Linked DNA regions of Homo sapiens: region 1 is linked to region 2. The links come from fine-mapping of genetic effects on gene expression. Tissue or cell type: whole blood. Region 2 holds a variant in brackets; the other region holds the start of a gene. All regions are shown on one strand. Distances are between the middles of the regions.

Evidence for each region. PIP is the estimated chance that this variant, and not a neighbour inherited with it, causes the effect.
Region 1: it holds the start of KPTN, and the variant in region 2 is fine-mapped to the expression of KPTN in whole blood (TOPMed, PIP above 0.99).

What each region holds. Positions count from the first base shown.
Region 1 is chr19:47,480,079-47,488,167 of GRCh38, reverse strand. It overlaps KPTN (kaptin, actin binding protein), which reads left to right and starts at 3,949. Exons shown (of 12, transcript NM_007059.4): 1 at 3,949-4,233; 2 at 4,584-4,666; 3 at 4,789-4,873; 4 at 4,953-5,007; 5 at 7,135-7,210; 6 at 7,335-7,408; 7 at 7,761-7,870. The coding sequence starts at 4,008. NAPA (NSF attachment protein alpha) reads left to right here. Exons shown (of 11, transcript NM_003827.4): 11 at 1-531. It overlaps NAPA-AS1 (NAPA antisense RNA 1), which reads right to left and starts at 3,886. Exons shown (of 4, transcript NR_038452.1): 1 at 3,644-3,886. RefSeq lists enhancers at 3,575-3,704, 3,735-4,024.
Region 2 is chr19:47,589,468-47,597,569 of GRCh38, reverse strand. No RefSeq gene overlaps it. Among named protein-coding and RNA genes, the nearest start is that of BICRA-AS2, 15 kb to the left of the region's middle. The variant T/C (reference allele first, on the strand shown) is at 4,076.

The DNA.
Region 1 (8,089 bases), 110 kb after region 2:
GCAGGTGGCACCGGGGGTCAGCATGCAGGGGCGCCAGAGGCCCAGGCTGCTGGCCGGACAGTCACCCTCTGTTCTCGCTACATCCCTTGCCCCCTGTCCATTTATTTAAGCCCCCATAGGTGCCCTTCACCCCCAAAACCAGCTGTACAGAATCTTTGATACAGACCTATTTGCTAGGGGTGCTGCCGGGGATTTGGGGTCAGCATCTGGCCCCCTATCTCCTGACCAGCTGAGTCATGAGGCCGGTTTCTCTCTCTCTCCCACTTTTGTCCCCCAGCCAAGCTCTAAAGCACATGTAGCCGCTGAGACCTGCTGTTTCTGCTGGGGGCAGGCTCCTCTTCCCCCAGCCCCGGGAGCCTCCCCCAGCTTCCTGCAGCCCCGACCTCTCAGGTTAGACCCTGGGCCCTGGAGCTTAGGGGATTCTCCCCACCCCAGCCCCACACCTGCTCCTTCCCTAATGCTTTGAGGTTTTCTTGGTTGGAAGCTGCAGCTGGCCCAAGAAAGAAAATAAAAAACAACACTTTTGCATGAGTCTCTCTTCCTCCTCACCTCTGCTACCCACTCTGCCCCTGGGCCAGTCACCAGTCCCTCTCACACTCCTGGTCCCCCAGACTCTGGGCGAGCTCTTGGGAGGTCAGGCGCATGCATCCTTGAAACACGTGTGGGCTGGGTCAGTTTCTAGGTGGGGGAGACCCAGGGACGGTGGGCCTGGGGAGGAGCTCTGGCTTGGGAGTCCCAGAGCGCCCATCTTGATCTTTCTCTGGGTTCTTGGGGTCCAGGGGCCTTGATTTCCTCAACTGGGATGCACGGTGGTGATGCCACCCCTCAGAGCCAGTGGGAGGGTCGAATGTGACGGTCCTCATGACTGCTTTGGATGAGAATGGGTGGAAGCCCACCGAATCTCCCATGTCCACATTTCTCTGGCAGGAAGGCTGAACGCCCCGGTGACAGTTGTTCCATCTGTCACAGGACGGGGGAGGAAGCGGCTTTGGTGGGCAGAGTCTGAGGCCCGAGTGGGTCTGGGGAGTGGGGGAGGAGATAGCAGGAGCCTTTGCCCAGGAAAGGTGGGCAGAAACCAGCTGCCTCCACCACACTCCACAATGTGCATGTTGGGGGCCCTGTCTGGTACACATGTGCTTTACCCTGCCCCGCGCAGGGCCCCTCGCTACAGAGGAGACAGCTGAAGGAGGCTCAGTGCCCAGGCATGATGGGAAAATGTCAGGAAGTGAGCAGGGGCAGTAATTGCACAGAGGAGGGGCTGCCTAGGAAACCAGGGTGGACTCCTGGGAGAGGGGCTCCAGCCCAGAAAGCCTAGAGAAGTGCAGGTGAGGTTCAAATTCCTTGACACCTGCCCTGCTCCTCTCTCCCCTGCAGCTTCTCCCACAGCTCCAGTCCACTGATAATGGCAGCAAAGACTTCTGAGACCTGAAATTGATTACCATGTCTGCCCCCATCATGGGTGCTGGCTGAAGGATAGTGTGAGAATCTGTTTCTGTCATCCATGACCTAAATCAGTGATGGTCCGCCCTGGCTATGCTTTAAAGTCATTAAAAGTATCCAGACTTGGGGCTGGGTGCTGTGGCTCATGCCTGTAATCGTAGCACTTTGGGAGGCCGAGGCAGGCGGATCACTTGAGGTCAAGAGTTCGAGAGCAGCCTAGCCAACATGGCAAAACCCTGTCTCTGCTAGAAATACAAAAATTAGGCATGATGGTGCAAAAATAAAAGTATCCAGACTGGGGCCGCACTCTGATAAATTGTGGTTTGACTGAGGTTTCCTACCCTTTGGGGGTTTTTGGGTTTGTTTTTTTTTTGAGACAGAGTCTCGCTCTATCGCCCAGGCTGGAGTGCAGTGGTGCGATCTTGGTTCACTGCAACCTCTGCCTCCCGGGTTCAAGCGATTCTCCTGCCTCAGTCTCCCGAGTAGCTGGGATTACAAGCGTGCGCCACCACGCCCAGCTAATTTTTGTATTTTTAGCAGAGACAGCGTTTCACCATGTTGGCCAGGCTGGTCTCAAACTCCTGACCTCAGTTGATCCGCCTGCCTCAGCTTCCAAAGTTCTGGAATTACAGGCATGAGCCACCAGGCCCGGCCTGTTTTGGTTTGTTTTGTTAAAACTTCATAGGCAGTTCAAGTGTGCAGCTAGGATTGGAAACCTCTTAACAGGATGATTCCTTCCTAACCTGTAACTTCATTTTTTCATTCATCCGCTCAACATGTGGCTTATAGGTTACTAGGGCGGGAAGACGCCTGAAGGAAACGCACTGCTGAAGTGGCACTAGACCCACGTGCCACTCCCTCAGCGAATATTCACTAAGCACCTGCTGCATGCCAGGCCCTGGGAATACAGCAGCACTGACGGCATTCCCAGACTGCCCTCCAGGAACTTCTACTCTCCACATCCAGAAATCTGGAATCATCACAAATTCCTTGCCACCTCCGTTATCCAGTCTGCCTTTGAGAACTTTCCATCATGTAAGAGCTGTCTCTTACATGCTCAGCACATAGTTTGTGATTTTTGACACATATTTTCTGAATGCCTGCTTTGTGTCAGGCCTTGTGTTCCAGGTACAGGCGATAAGGCCGTGATCAAGGGAGATCAGCCTGCTGCCTTCATGGAGCTTGCAGTCTGTGTGTGCTCGAGGTGTCCAGGACAGCTGGCCAACCCATGTCTTCTGGAAATGATACACAGATGTGCACATAGTACCCAAACCTCCATGGCCTTCTAGGGACAAAGCAGCACAGACAGGAACCCCTGAAGGCCCCAGAGTCGGAAACACCTGGTTTACATCCTGTCCCCACCACTTGCTAGCATATCAGTCAGTGGACTTACTCTTTCTGAGCCTCCATTTGATTCTCTCTAAACTGGGATAATAAACCTCTTTGTAGAGGTTTCTTTCTTGCAAAGATTAGTGAGACAGATTTGCAAAGGACGTCCGGGCACATAGTAAAAGCTCAATGAATCCTGAATAAGTGAACCGGCAGGGAGGGTAACAGTAGGCCCTTGCAGAACAGTTGTAAGGAATCAGATTATCAGAGCCAGCATGACTGTCACCAAGTAGGTGTTCGATAAAGGAGGTGGTTATTATAGCTGGATCATTTTTCCTTGGGGGCAAGAAGAATGTATTAATTATTTTAAAGGTGATACTGTTAAGATTATGAACTATAGGCCGGGCAAGGGGGCTCACGCCTATAATCCTAGCACTTTGGGAGGCCGAGGTGGGCGGATCACCTGAGGTCAGGAGGTCCAGACCAGCCTGGGCAACATGGCGAAACCCCATCTCTACTAAAAATAGAAAAACTAGCCAGGTGTGGTGGCGCCTGTAATCCCAGCTGCTGGGAGGCTGAGGCAGGAGAATCGCTTGAACCCAGGAGGCAGAGGTTGCAGTGAGCCGAGATCGCACCACTGCACTCCAGGGTGACAGAGCAAGACTCCGTCTCAAAAAAAAAAAAAAAAAAAATAGTGAACTGTGGAGTTACCTTGTTTGGTTTCCAGTACTGACCGCTCGTTACTAGCTGTGTGATCTTAGGCAAGTTACTTTACCCCTCTGTGCCTCAATTCCTTCATCTCTAAAATGGATTTAAGTACCTACCTCCACCCCCTTGCGAATTTTTAATAAAGTATTAGATGGAATGCACTTACAGTAGTTCCTGGCACATAAGGGCAATATTAAGTTTTATGATGATGATGATTCGACCTTCCACACAGCATACAGCGAGAGGCCGTGGCCACCACCTCCCATCTCTAGTCACAGACTCCTTATGGCAGCCCCTTGGTCCAGAAATGGAAAGGAGAAGAGAGCGCGGGCGCAGTGGGGCAAAGTCGCCTGGGAGGCCCGAGCAGGCGACCTGGCCGCCATCTTGGGAGAGGGCAACGCCGGCAGCTTCCGTACGTCATCAGCCCGCGCAACGGCCGGGCACCCGGCGGTTCAGGTCGCTTAGAGAGTCGTAGGTTGGGTAGTGCGGGTTGGGGCGGGGGCTGCGGAGAGGGTGCTTAACTGAGGGGCATGATGGGGGAGGCGGCCGTGGCCGCGGGGCCTTGTCCGTTGCGCGAGGACAGCTTCACGCGCTTCTCGTCGCAGAGCAATGTGTACGGGCTGGCAGGCGGCGCCGGCGGGCGCGGGGAGCTGCTGGCCGCCACCCTTAAAGGCAAGGTGCTCGGCTTCCGCTACCAAGACCTCCGACAGAAAATCCGGCCAGTGGCCAAGGAGCTGCAGTTCAACTACATTCCCGGTGGGTGGCGCTATGGTGCTGGGGGGCGGGGGCCTGGAACGTGGTGTTGAGAAGGCTTCTGAGGCTCTGTCTGAGCCGGGTCACCGTGCTGGAAGAATGGGATCAGGTGGTTTTAAGGGGGTCACTGGGATCAGCGGGCAGGCATAGTTGGGGCCCGGATGAGCCTAGGGTTTCAGGATTCTTCAGACTTACAGGTCAGGATCCCTAGTACCCAGGGAACAGAGATCAGGTGATGGTGGTCAGGACTCAGACCAGAGGGCATGATCATTGCGGTAGCCAGAGCTCACCATGTTGGGGAGATTGGAAGCATGAGTCTGCCTGACACTGAACTTAGAACTCTCCCCTCCCAGTGGATGCGGAGATTGTCTCCATCGACACTTTCAACAAGTCACCCCCCAAGCGGGGTCTGGTTGTGGGGATCACGTTCATCAAGGTACCTAGAGCCCCCTCCACCTCCCTTCGCCCTCCTCCTTACACACATGGTGAGTTCCACTGAGCCGCCCCGGATCCCTCCTGCCACCCCTGCCCTCCCCTGAACCCCGTGTCCTCCGCCAGGATTCAGGGGACAAGGGCAGCCCCTTCCTGAACATTTACTGCGACTACGAGCCCGGCTCTGAGTACAACCTTGACTCTATTGCCCGTGAGTGAGGCGTGGACGGGAGGAGGGAGAGAGTCCCCAGCAGGTCCCCCATGCTAACCTGCCTGTGCCCTGCCTACAGAGAGCTGCCTGAACCTGGAGCTCCAGTTCACTCCGTTCCAGCTGTGCCATGCGGAGTGAGTGTCCCCTGCGCATCGACGCCCACTCCACTGTAAATGTAGAAACCCTGGCTTCTCGAACCCCTTCTTTACTTACAGACCCCTGTAGTCTGTTTCCCCTTCTGGAAAATAAAGAGGTTGTACTAGATTAGGGATTGAAAACTAAAATGCCAGCCGGGCACGGTGGCTCACACCTGTAATCCCAGCACTTTGAGAGGCTGAGGCAGACGGATCACCTGAGGTCAGGAGTTTGAGACCAGCCTGGCCAACATGGCGAAACCCCGTCTCTACTAAAAATACAAAAATTAGCTGGGCATGGTGGTGTGTGCCTGTAATCCCAGCCTACTCAGGAGGCTGAGGCAGGAGAATCACTTGAACCCGGGAGGCGGAGGTTGCAGTGAGCCAAGATTGCACCACAGCACTCCAACCTGGGTGACAAGAGCGAAACTCTGTCTCAAAAATAAATAAATAAAATAAAATGAAATTAAACTAAAATGCCTTTGGGGACCAGAGAGGTCATGTGAGAATGGAAAGCACAAATGTAATATAACAGGGAGCACATGTGCACACACACATATGCAGCTGAGGTTGGAAAGCTGTAGCTAACTGGAGACCACGAACTTGTCCATAGACAATCAGATTCTACATTTGTTTTTTAAAGCATTGCACTTTTTTTTTCTTTCTTTTTTTTTTTTTTTGAGATAGATGCTCGCTCTGTTGCCAGGCTGGAGTGCAGTGGCTCGATCTCTGCAACCTCTACCTCCCTGGTTCAAGTGATTCTACTGCCTCAGCCTCCTGAGTAGCTAGGATTACAGGCTCACACCACCATGCCCGGCTAATTTTTGTATTTTTAGTATAGATAGGTTTTTGCCATGTTGGCCAGGCTAGTCTCGAACTCCTGACCTCAGGTGATCCGCCCGCCTTGGCCTCCCAAAGTGCTGGGATTACAGGCGTGAGCCACCACGCCTGGCCGGAGCATCATGCTTTTAAGGTGGCCATGGACCGGATGGCCAAGGGGCCACCACACTGCCATTCCTGAACTAGATAATCTGAGAGAGTTGATGGAGCACCTGTGAATTCTGGGAATTCTGCACATCTAGAATTCCCAGATTCTAATGTTCTAGAGTCTGACATTCCAAGATCAGAGATGCTAAGTTTTCTAGAGTCGTAGGCTCTAAGATTCCAACATTTGAATATTCTACAGTACGATAGAAGCCAGAATCTTCTGAGGTTCTGTAATGATAAAGTCCTGACATTCTCATCTTTCGAGGAGATAGAACATAGAGCATCTAGAATACCAAGGTGCTAGAACCCCAAAGTGTGTGGGTTCCATTCTAGAGTTCCAGATTCCATTCCAGAACACAGATGGTCTAGAACAGGGATTGGCAAACTTTTTTTGGTAGAGATCCAGATAGTAAATATTAGGCTTTGAGGGCCAGTCTGTCACAACTACTCACTTTGCCATTGTAGCCAGAAAGCAGCCATTGACACTATAAATGAATGGATGTGGCTATGTTCCAATAAAACTTTATTTACAAAAACAGATGGTGGGTTGGATTTGGTCTGCAGGTCATAACTTGGCCAACCTCTGGTCTAACAGGTGAGAGTCCCCAAAACTGAAGATTCTAATTGCACTAATGTTCTCCTTGCTAGGATTTGGATATTCTATCATTCCGTGAATCTGAAATCTATGATGGCAAATTCTAGAAGTTCTTGTATTTTTAAGGAGACAGAAAACAGCACTTCTAGAATACCAGGGTTTCAGAATGAAGAGGTCCTAGCTTTCTAAGGTTCTGCAGTTCATTCTAGAGTTCCACATTCGATTCCTGAATCCACAGAGTGAAGGTAGGAGTAGATGCGGGCTCTAAGAGCGGGAGGTTCTAGCAAGCCATGTTCCCGCAATTCTGAGATTGGGAGGTACATTCCTTGATTTTGAGATTCTATGAGGGCTCGTTTCTACAGTTATGTATTTCAAGGAGATACAGTACTCAGGAGCTTGAGCCCTGAGATTCTAACCCTGGGTCTAGTGTCTGGATCCCAGAATGTTAAGGTTCTCAACAGGCAGGGGTTTTTGCAAGAGGAGAGTTCTGGTTCTCAGACCATGTGGATTCCACTACCTTGGGTTCTAGATTTCTCTGCTTTCAGGGTCCAGGTCGGGGATCAACTTGAGACTGTGTTTCTCTTGAGTGGGAACGACCCGGCCATTCATCTCTACAAGGAGGTGAGGTGGGGCGGCGTGCTGGGCAGAGCCCTGTGGGATTCACTGTGGGCTGGCGCTGGGTGGGTATATGTGTGAAGCTGACGGCTGACTTAAGCGGGGGTGGGGTGGGTCTTGGTTTCCCCAGAACGAGGGGCTGCATCAGTTTGAGGAACAGCCCGTGGAAAACCTCTTCCCAGAGCTGACGAACCTGACCAGTAGGTAGGAGAGGCCCCGAAAGAGGCCACTGGGGACCGGGGCACTGACATCAGAGAAATCGGGCGGTGAGACCTTAGAGAAATTGGTCACCGGGGAGGAGCTCAGAAAAATCAGTCCACGGCATGACTTCAGAGAAATTGATCAGCAGGGGTGACCCCAGAAAAAACAAGAGGTGGACTCAGCCCTCGGGTGGTGAGAATTGACCTCAGAGGAATTGGGCGGTGGGGATTATCCAGGAGGAATCAAGCAGCAGGGTCCCAGGGCTACAGGGAGGGGCGGCTGCCCCTGGGGAGGCAGAGGGGCGGGGCTGGGCCCAGCAATGGCCGTCCGTCCTGTCCATCCACCCGCCCGCCAGCGTCCTCTGGCTGGACGTCCACAACTTCCCCGGCACGTCCCGGCGCCTCTCAGCTCTGGGCTGTCAGAGTGGTTATGTCCGTGTCGCCCACGTGGACCAGCGGAGTCGAGGTGAGGGCCGCGGTGAGGCGGGGTAAGGGGTGGGGTTGAGGGCTAGAGGGCGGGGCCAGGGTGGGGCTGAGGGCTGGAGCTGGGTGGGGTAGGGGAGGAGGATAAGTGGGTTGAGGGATGAGGGTGGGGCTTGCCGGGTGGGGCTAGGGTGGGGCCGAGGGCTATTGCTGGGTGAGGTAGGGGAAGTGGGGGAAGGGATGAGGGTGGGGATTGGGGGCG
Region 2 (8,102 bases):
TCTATCTCCTGACCTCATGATCCGCCTGCCTTAGCCTCCCAAAGTGCTGGGATTACAGGCATGAGCCACTGCGCCTGGCCGACCCGCAGATTCTGAATGAAAGTGAACAATTTTCACATCCGATTTCTGCAACGGAGTTTGTTTTTGTTTTGAATTTCTGGTGACTTTTCCTAAAATTATATTTATTTATTTATTTTTATTATTTTGAGACAGAGTCTCACTGTCGCCATGCTGGAGTGCAGTGACGCAACCTTGGCTCACTGCAACCTCCGCCTCCTGGGTTCAAGCAATTCTCCTGCCTCAGCTTCCAGAGTAGCTGGGACTACAGGCATGAGCCACCACACCCACCTAATTTTTGTATTTTCGGTAGAGACAGGGTTTCACCATGTTGGCCAGGATGGTCTCGATCTTCTGACCTTGTGATCTCCCCAACTCAGCCTCCTAAAGTGCTGGCATTACAGGCGTGAGCCACCACGCCTGGCCTATTTATTTATTTTTTTGAGACAGAGTCTCCGTCTGTCACCCAGGCTGGAGTGCAGTGGCGCGATCTCAGCTCACTGCAACCTCCACCTCCCAGGTTCCATCAATTCTCCTGCCTCAGTCTCCCGAGTAGCTGGGACTACAGGCAATCATAGTTCACTGCAGCCTCAACCCCTTGGCCTCAAGCAATCCTCCTACCTCAGCCTCCTGGCTAGCTGGGAATAAAGGCACACACCACCACACCTGACTAATTTTTGTATTTTTTGTAGAGACAGGGTTTCACCATGTTGCCCAGACTGGACTCAAACTCCTGGGCTCCAATGATGCGCCTGCCTGGGCCTTCCAACACTTCTTTTTTTTTGAGACGGAGTCTTGGTCTGTTGCCAAGGCTGGAGTGCAGTGGCACGATCTTCGATCACTGCAACCTGCACCTCCCAGGTTCAAGCAATTCTCTGCCTCAGCCTCCCGAGTAGCTGGGATTACAGGCGCCCGCTGCCACACCCGGCTAATTTTTTGTATTTTTAGTAGAGACAGGGTTTCACCATCTTGGCCAGGCTGGTCTTGAACTCCTGACCTCGTGATCCACCCGCCTCGGCCTCCCAAAGTGCTGGAATTACAGGCGTGAGCCACCGCGCCTGGCCAAGGCCTCCCAACACTTCTGAGCCCTTTACATACATTAGCTGATGGAATCTTCACAGCAACCTTGAAGTAGGAGCTGTTGTCATCTTCATTTCACAGATGAAGAACCGAGGCACAGAGAAGTTAACTAACTGGCCTAAGTTCTTACATTTCTCTCCAGAAAAGGAAGACGAAGACCAAGAATGGCTGGCGAGGGAGGAAGTGTCCAAAGTTGCTGAGAGAGAAAAGAAGGGAAATTAAGATAAACCACTGGACTGGTGAAGGTGGAAATGATGGTTCAGTGAGGTGGTGAGGGCTGAGGTCAGCTTGCAGAAGGTGGTGAGGAAATGGCCAAGAAACACAGGAAAGGATGCTCAGTCATCAGTATTAGGGAAATGGAAGTCAAAACCACAATGAGATACAACCTCACACCCACTAGAATCATCACGATCAAAAGAGGAAAAAATAGGCCGGGCTCGGTGGCTCATAGTTGGAATCCCAGCCCTTTGGGAGGCCAAGGTGAGTGGATCGCCTGAGGTCAGGAGTTCAAGACCAGCCTGGCCAACATGGTGAAACCCTGTCTCTACTAAAAATGCAAAAATTAGCCGGGTGTGGTGGCAGGCGCCTGTAATCTCAGCTACTCGGGAGGGTGAGGCAGGAGAATTGCTGGAACCCAGGAGGCAGAGGTTGCAGTGAGCTGAGATCGCGCCATTGCACTCCAGCCCAGGCCGACAACAGCAAGACTCCATCTGAAATAAAACAAAATTGTATTTTAAAAAATGCTTAAGGGTTTTTTAAAAGCAAAGGTGTTGAGTATATATGATTTTTAAAAATTGATTGGGCTCAGTAGCTCACGCCTGTTATCCCAGCACTTTGGATGGCAGAGGCAGGCAGATCACGGGGTCAGGAGTTCGAGACCAGCCTGGCCAACATGGTGAAACCCCGTCTCTACTAAAAACACAAAAATTAGCTGGGCCTGGTAGCACATGCCTGCAATCCCAGCTCCTCGGGAGGCTGAGGCAGGAGAATTGCTTGAACCCGGGAGGCGGAGTTTGCAGTGAGTCGAGATGTTGCCACTGCACTCTAGCCTGGGCGACAGAGCAAGACTCTGTCTCGGCGTGGGAAATAAGGCTGGGTGTGATGGCTCACACCTGTAATCCCAGCACTTTGGGAGGCCGAGGTGGGTGGATCACCTGAAGTCAGGAGTTGGATACCACCCTGACCCACATGATGAAACCCCATCTCTACTAAAAATACAAAATTAGCCGATCGTGGTAGTGCATCCCTGTAATCCCAGCTACTTGGGAGGCTGAGGCAGGAGAACTGCTTGAACCTGGGAGGCGAAGGTTGTGGTGAGCCAAGATCACACCATTGCACTCCAGCCTGGGTAACAAGAGTGAAACTTCATCTCAAAAACAAATAATAATAATTAAATAAATAAAAATAAAAAATAATACAGACCAGGCACGGTGGCTCACACCTATAATCCCAGCACTTTGGGATGCTGAGACAGGTGGATCACTTGAGATCAGGAGTTCGAGATCAGCCTGGACAACATGGCAAAATCCCGTCTCTACTAAAAATACAAAAAAAAAAAAAAAAAAAATAGCTGGGCGTGGCTGGGCACGGTGTCTCACTCCTGTAATCCCAGCACTTTGGGAGGCTGAGGTGGGCGGATCACGAGGTCAGGAGATCGAGACCATACTTGCTAACACAGTGAAACCCCGTCTCTACTAAAAATATAAAACAAAATTAGCCGGGCGTGGTGGCAGGCGCCTGTAGTCCCAGCTACTTGGGAGGCTGAGGCAGGAGAATGGTGTGAACCCGGGAGGTGGAGCTTGCAGTGAGCCGAGATCACACCACTGCACTCCAGTGTGGGCAACAGAGCAAGACTCCGTCTCAACAACAACAAAAAAAAAAAAAAGAGAGAGAAAAAAATTAGCTGGGTGTGGTGGTGTGTGCCTGTAGTCTCAGCTATTGGGGAGGCTGAGGCAGGAGAATCGCTTGAACCTGGGAGGTGAAGGTTGCAGTGAGCCAAGATGGCCCCACTGCATTCCAGCCTAGGTGACAGAGTAAGACTCCACCTTAAATAAATAAATTAAATTAAATTAAGTAAAATAAAAAATCATACATATGGCAGCAGCATAGGCAAGGAGAAGAGCCAAAAATGGTTGGTGAGGGGCTGGTGGAAGGCAAGAACCGAGAGGTCTGGGGAGATGGTGGTGGAGTGAGGTTAGGTCAATGCAATGAGTGTTTGTCGGTATCTGCTCTGTGGCGGTTACTGGGAGACCCTGGGGTCTACCTCGTGGAACTCTCGGGTCTGTGGAGGTTACAGACTTCTCCCTAAAGTGGATAGGGGGAGTGAGTCCTGGGGATGTGGGAGCTCAGAGCAGGCACCTGACCCAGCCTGGGGTTTGGGAAGGCTTCCTGGAGGAGGAGGAGGATAAAGAGGAATTGTTAGGAAAAGACAGTGCAGGGAATTCTGAGAATAGAGGAATACACAAACAGTTTGTCCCACGACACACTCACAACACGCTCTGTCACTAGATATGAGGGGGATCTTCTCCCCCCAGGGGACACCAGCCTGTCCTCCAATTCAATTCACTTCTGACACTATCTACCTGGAGACAGCATCAGATCCCACAGGTTGAAGGCTGAGTCCCACAAGATTGCCCCCCACTTCTTTTTTTTTTTTGAGACAGAGTCTCGCTCTGTCTCAAAAGAGTTGCCCAGGCTGGAGTGCTATGGCACAATCTCAGCTCACAGCAACCTCTGCCTCCCGGGTTCAAGCGATTCTTCTGCCTCAGTCTCCCAGGTAGCTGGGATTACAGGCGCCCGCCACCACGACCAAGTCATTTTTGTATTTTTAGTAGAGATGGGGTTTCGCCATGTTGGCCAGGCTGGTCTGGAACTCTTGACCCCAGGTCATCTGCCCGCCTTGGCCTCCCAAAGTGCTGGGATTATAGGCCTGAGTTAC[T/C]GAGCTCTTTTTTTTTTTTTTTTTTTTTTGAGATGGAGTCTCCCTGTGTCACCCAGGCTGGAGTGCAGTGGTGTGATTTCTGCTCACTGCAACCTCCGCCTCCGGGGTTCAAGTGATTCTCATGCCTCAGCCTCCCTCCCAAGTAGCTGGGATTACAGGCACCCACCACCACACCTGGCTAATTTTTTGTATTTTTAGTAGAGACAGTTTCACCATTTTGGCCAAGCTGGTCTTGAACTCTGAAGCTCAAATGATCCGTCCCCCTTGGCCTCCCAAAGTGCTGGGATGGGATTACAGGTGTAAGCCACTGAGCCAAGCCTGTTCCCTACTTCCAGTGCCGATCTCAAGCTCCAGGTTGTTTAATTTTTTTTTTTTTTTTTTTTGAGACGGAGTCTCGCTCTGTTGCCCAGGCTGGAGTGCAGTGGCGCTATCTCGGCTCACTGCAAACTCCACCTCTCGGGTTCACACCATTCTCCTGCCTCAGTCTCCCGAGTAGCTGGGATTACAGGTGCCTGCCACAACGCCCAGCTAATTTTTGTATCTTTAGTAGAGACCATGTTGGCCAGGCTGGTCTTGAACTCCTGACCTCAAGTGAACTGACCACTTTGGCCTCCCAAAGTGCTGAGATTACAGACATGAGCCATCACACCTGGCCTAATTTAATTTTAATTTTAATTTTGAGACAGAGTCCCAGTCTGTCGCCCAGGCTGGAGTGTAGTGGTATGATCATGGCTCACTGCAGCCTTGACTTCCTGGGCTTAGGTGATCCTCCCACTTCAGCCTCCCGAATAACTGGGACTACAGATGCGTGCCACCATACCTGGCTAAGTTTTTTGTATGTTTTGTAGAGATGGGGTTTCACCATGTTGCCCAGGCTGGTCTTGAACTCCTGGGCTCAAGCAACCCTCTGGTCTTGGCCTCCTGAAGTGTTGGAATTACAGGTGTGAGCCTCCGCTCCTGGCCAGTCAGCTAAGACTTGTGAGATGAATAGAGTTGTCAGATGAGGGTGGAAGGGAAGAGGAGATGCAAAGGCCTAGCACTGGGGAAGGAGGAAAGGCAGGTGGCTAGAAAGTCAGCAGTTTGGCTGAGATGGTCTGAGGGACAGGGCAGACTTGCAGGTACACCAGGGATTTGGGGTTTGACCCCAGAGGTAATCTACAGTCATTAAAGTGTTTGCTGTTTTTTTTAATTGTTACATAATTCGGCCATGTGCGGTGGCTCATGCTTGTAATCCCAGCAATTTGGGAGGCCGAGGAGGGAGGATCACCTGAGGTCAGGAGTTTGAGACCAGCCTGGCCAACATAGTGAAGCCCCATCTCTACTAAAAACACAAAATATTAGCTGGGCATGGTAGTGGGTGCCTGTAGTTCCAGCTACTTGGGAGGCTGAGGCAGGAGAATCACTTTAACCCAGGAGACAGAAGTTTTGGTGACTGAGATCACACCACTGCCCTTCAACCTGGGCAACAGAGCAAGACTCAGTCTCAAAAAAAAAAAAAAGAAAAATTCTGATATAATTTGCCTACCATAAAACTCCTTATTTATTTATTTATTTTTTGGGGGACAGAGTTTCGCTCTTGTTGCCGAGGCTGGAGTGCAATGGCATGATCTCGGCTCCCCGCAACCTCCGGCTCCCAAGTTCTCAATTCTCCTGCCTCAGCCTCCCGAGTAACTGGGATTACAGGCATGCACCACCATGCTCGGCTAATTTTGTATTTTTAGTAGAGATGGGGTTTCTCCATGTTGGTCAGGCTGGCCCCGCTTGGCCTCCCAAAGTGCTGGGATTACAGGCGTGAGCTACTGCGCCCAGCCAATTTTTAATTTTTTTTAGTAGAGACAGGATCTTGCTATGTTGCCCAGACTGGTCTTGAATTCCTGGGCTCCGGCCGTCTTCCAGCCTCAGCCTCCAAAGTAGCTGGGATTACAAGCACACACCACTGTACCTGGCTCAAAATTCATCATTTTAAAATGTATAATTCAATGGTTTTTCATATATTCCCAGTGCTGTGCAAACATCATCACTATGTAGCTTCAGAACATCTCAGTATCCCAGCACAAAACCGCTGGCCCGTTAGTAGTCGCTTCCTATCTCCCGTCCCCCAGGTCTGGGCAACTATCAATCTACTTTCTGTCTCCATGGACTTGTCTGTTCTGGATATTTCATAAAAATAGTCATACAGTGTGTAGTCCCTTATGACAGGCTTCCTTCAGTTAGCATAATGTTCTCAAGGTTCATCCATTCAAGTAGCAGTACTTTGGCCAGGCGCAGTGGCTCACACCTGTAATCCCAGCACTTTGGGAGGCCAAGGCGGGCAGATCACCTCAGGTCAGTTCGAGACCAGTCTGACCAACATGGGGAAACACCATCTCTACTACAAATACAAAATTAGCCTGGTGTGGTGGCGCATGCCTGTAATCCCAGCTACTCGGGAGGCTGAGGCAGGAGAATTGCTTGAACCCAGGAGGCGGAGGTTGCAGTGAGCCGAGATCGTGCCATTACACTCCAGCCTGGGCAACAAGAGGGAAATTCCATCTCAAAAAAAAAAAAAAAAGAAAAAAAAAGTATCAGTAAGTACTTCATTCCTTTTTATGGCTGAATAACATTCCATTGTATGGATAGACCACATTTCACTTATCAGTTCACTTGTTGATGGACGTTTCTCTCTTTTGGCTGTTGCGAATAGTGTTGTTTTGGCTGTTGTGAATAGTGTTGCTATGGACATTTATGTACAAGTTATTGTTTGAACACCTATTTTTTTATTTATTTATATTTATTTTGAGACGGAGTCTCGCTCTGTCTCCTAGGCTGGAGTGCAGTGGTGCAATCTCGGCTCACTGCAACCTCCACCTCCTGGGTTCAAGTGATTCTCCTGCCTCAGTCTCACGAGTAGCTGGGATTACAGGCGCCCGCAACCACACCTGGCTAATTTTTATTTTTTGTATTTTTAGTACAGACAGGGTTTCACCATGTTGGCCATCTGGTCTCAAACTCTTGATGTCAACTGATTGACCAGCCTCAGCCTCCCAAAGTGCTGGGCTTACAGGTGTGAGCCACCACACCCACCCATAACAGGTTTTTTGTGTCAATATATGTTTTCATTTCTCTTGGATATCTACCTAGGAGTGGAATGAAGGTTTGCTTTGTTGTTGTTTTGTTTTTTACCAGCAATAATTTCAAGCTTACAGAAAACTAGCAAGAAAGGTAAGTAGATCTTTCCTGGATTCGCAAGTCAGTAACATTTGGCCACCTCTGCTGTATGTTTCTTTTCTGAACATTTGAGAGGCAGTGGAAGACGTCGTGTCCCTTGATCCCTAAATCCTTCAGCATGACGTTACTAAAAACAAAGACATGCTCTTTAAAAAATCCAGAACAAGAATCAGAAACAGGAAATGAAACGTTGATACAATAATACAATTGTTTAATCCACAAATTCAAATCTGTTTGTCTCAATAAAATCCTTTATAGCAATGTTTTCCCCAGCCCAGGATTCAACACAGGATCATACATTGCATCAAGTCACATGGCCGAAGGATCTTAGGAAGGAAAAAACTTAATCATCTTTGCCCTTTCCTGGAATCCCTTTGGCTGACATGGGAAGAAAAGATCGGAGGGGGAATAAGAGGGCAAGCAGGGAGACCAGGGAGAAAGCCGGTGCTTACAATAGGAAAGAGAAACTTAGGAATCAGAAAGATCTCAGTTCAAGTCTTGGCCCAGCTTTTCAGGAACTGTGGCCTTGGGCATGTGACTGAACTTCTTTAAGCCTCAACTACTGCGTCAGAAAAATGGGACTAACTCCTAGGATTGGTGTGAGACCAGGGATGTGCTGAGCACAAACCTTGCCCATCAGTCGGAATCAATTTCCCAACACCATCCCATCCGCCATTTATTCCAGTCAATTACACAACCCAGGACAGTCCTGAGTTCTTCAGATATGGTTACTTTCTGGATCCCCTCAAGAAACAACCTTACAAGTAGGTGTTATCCTCATCCCCACTTTATTATTTTTATTTCCATTTCTTTATTTCTT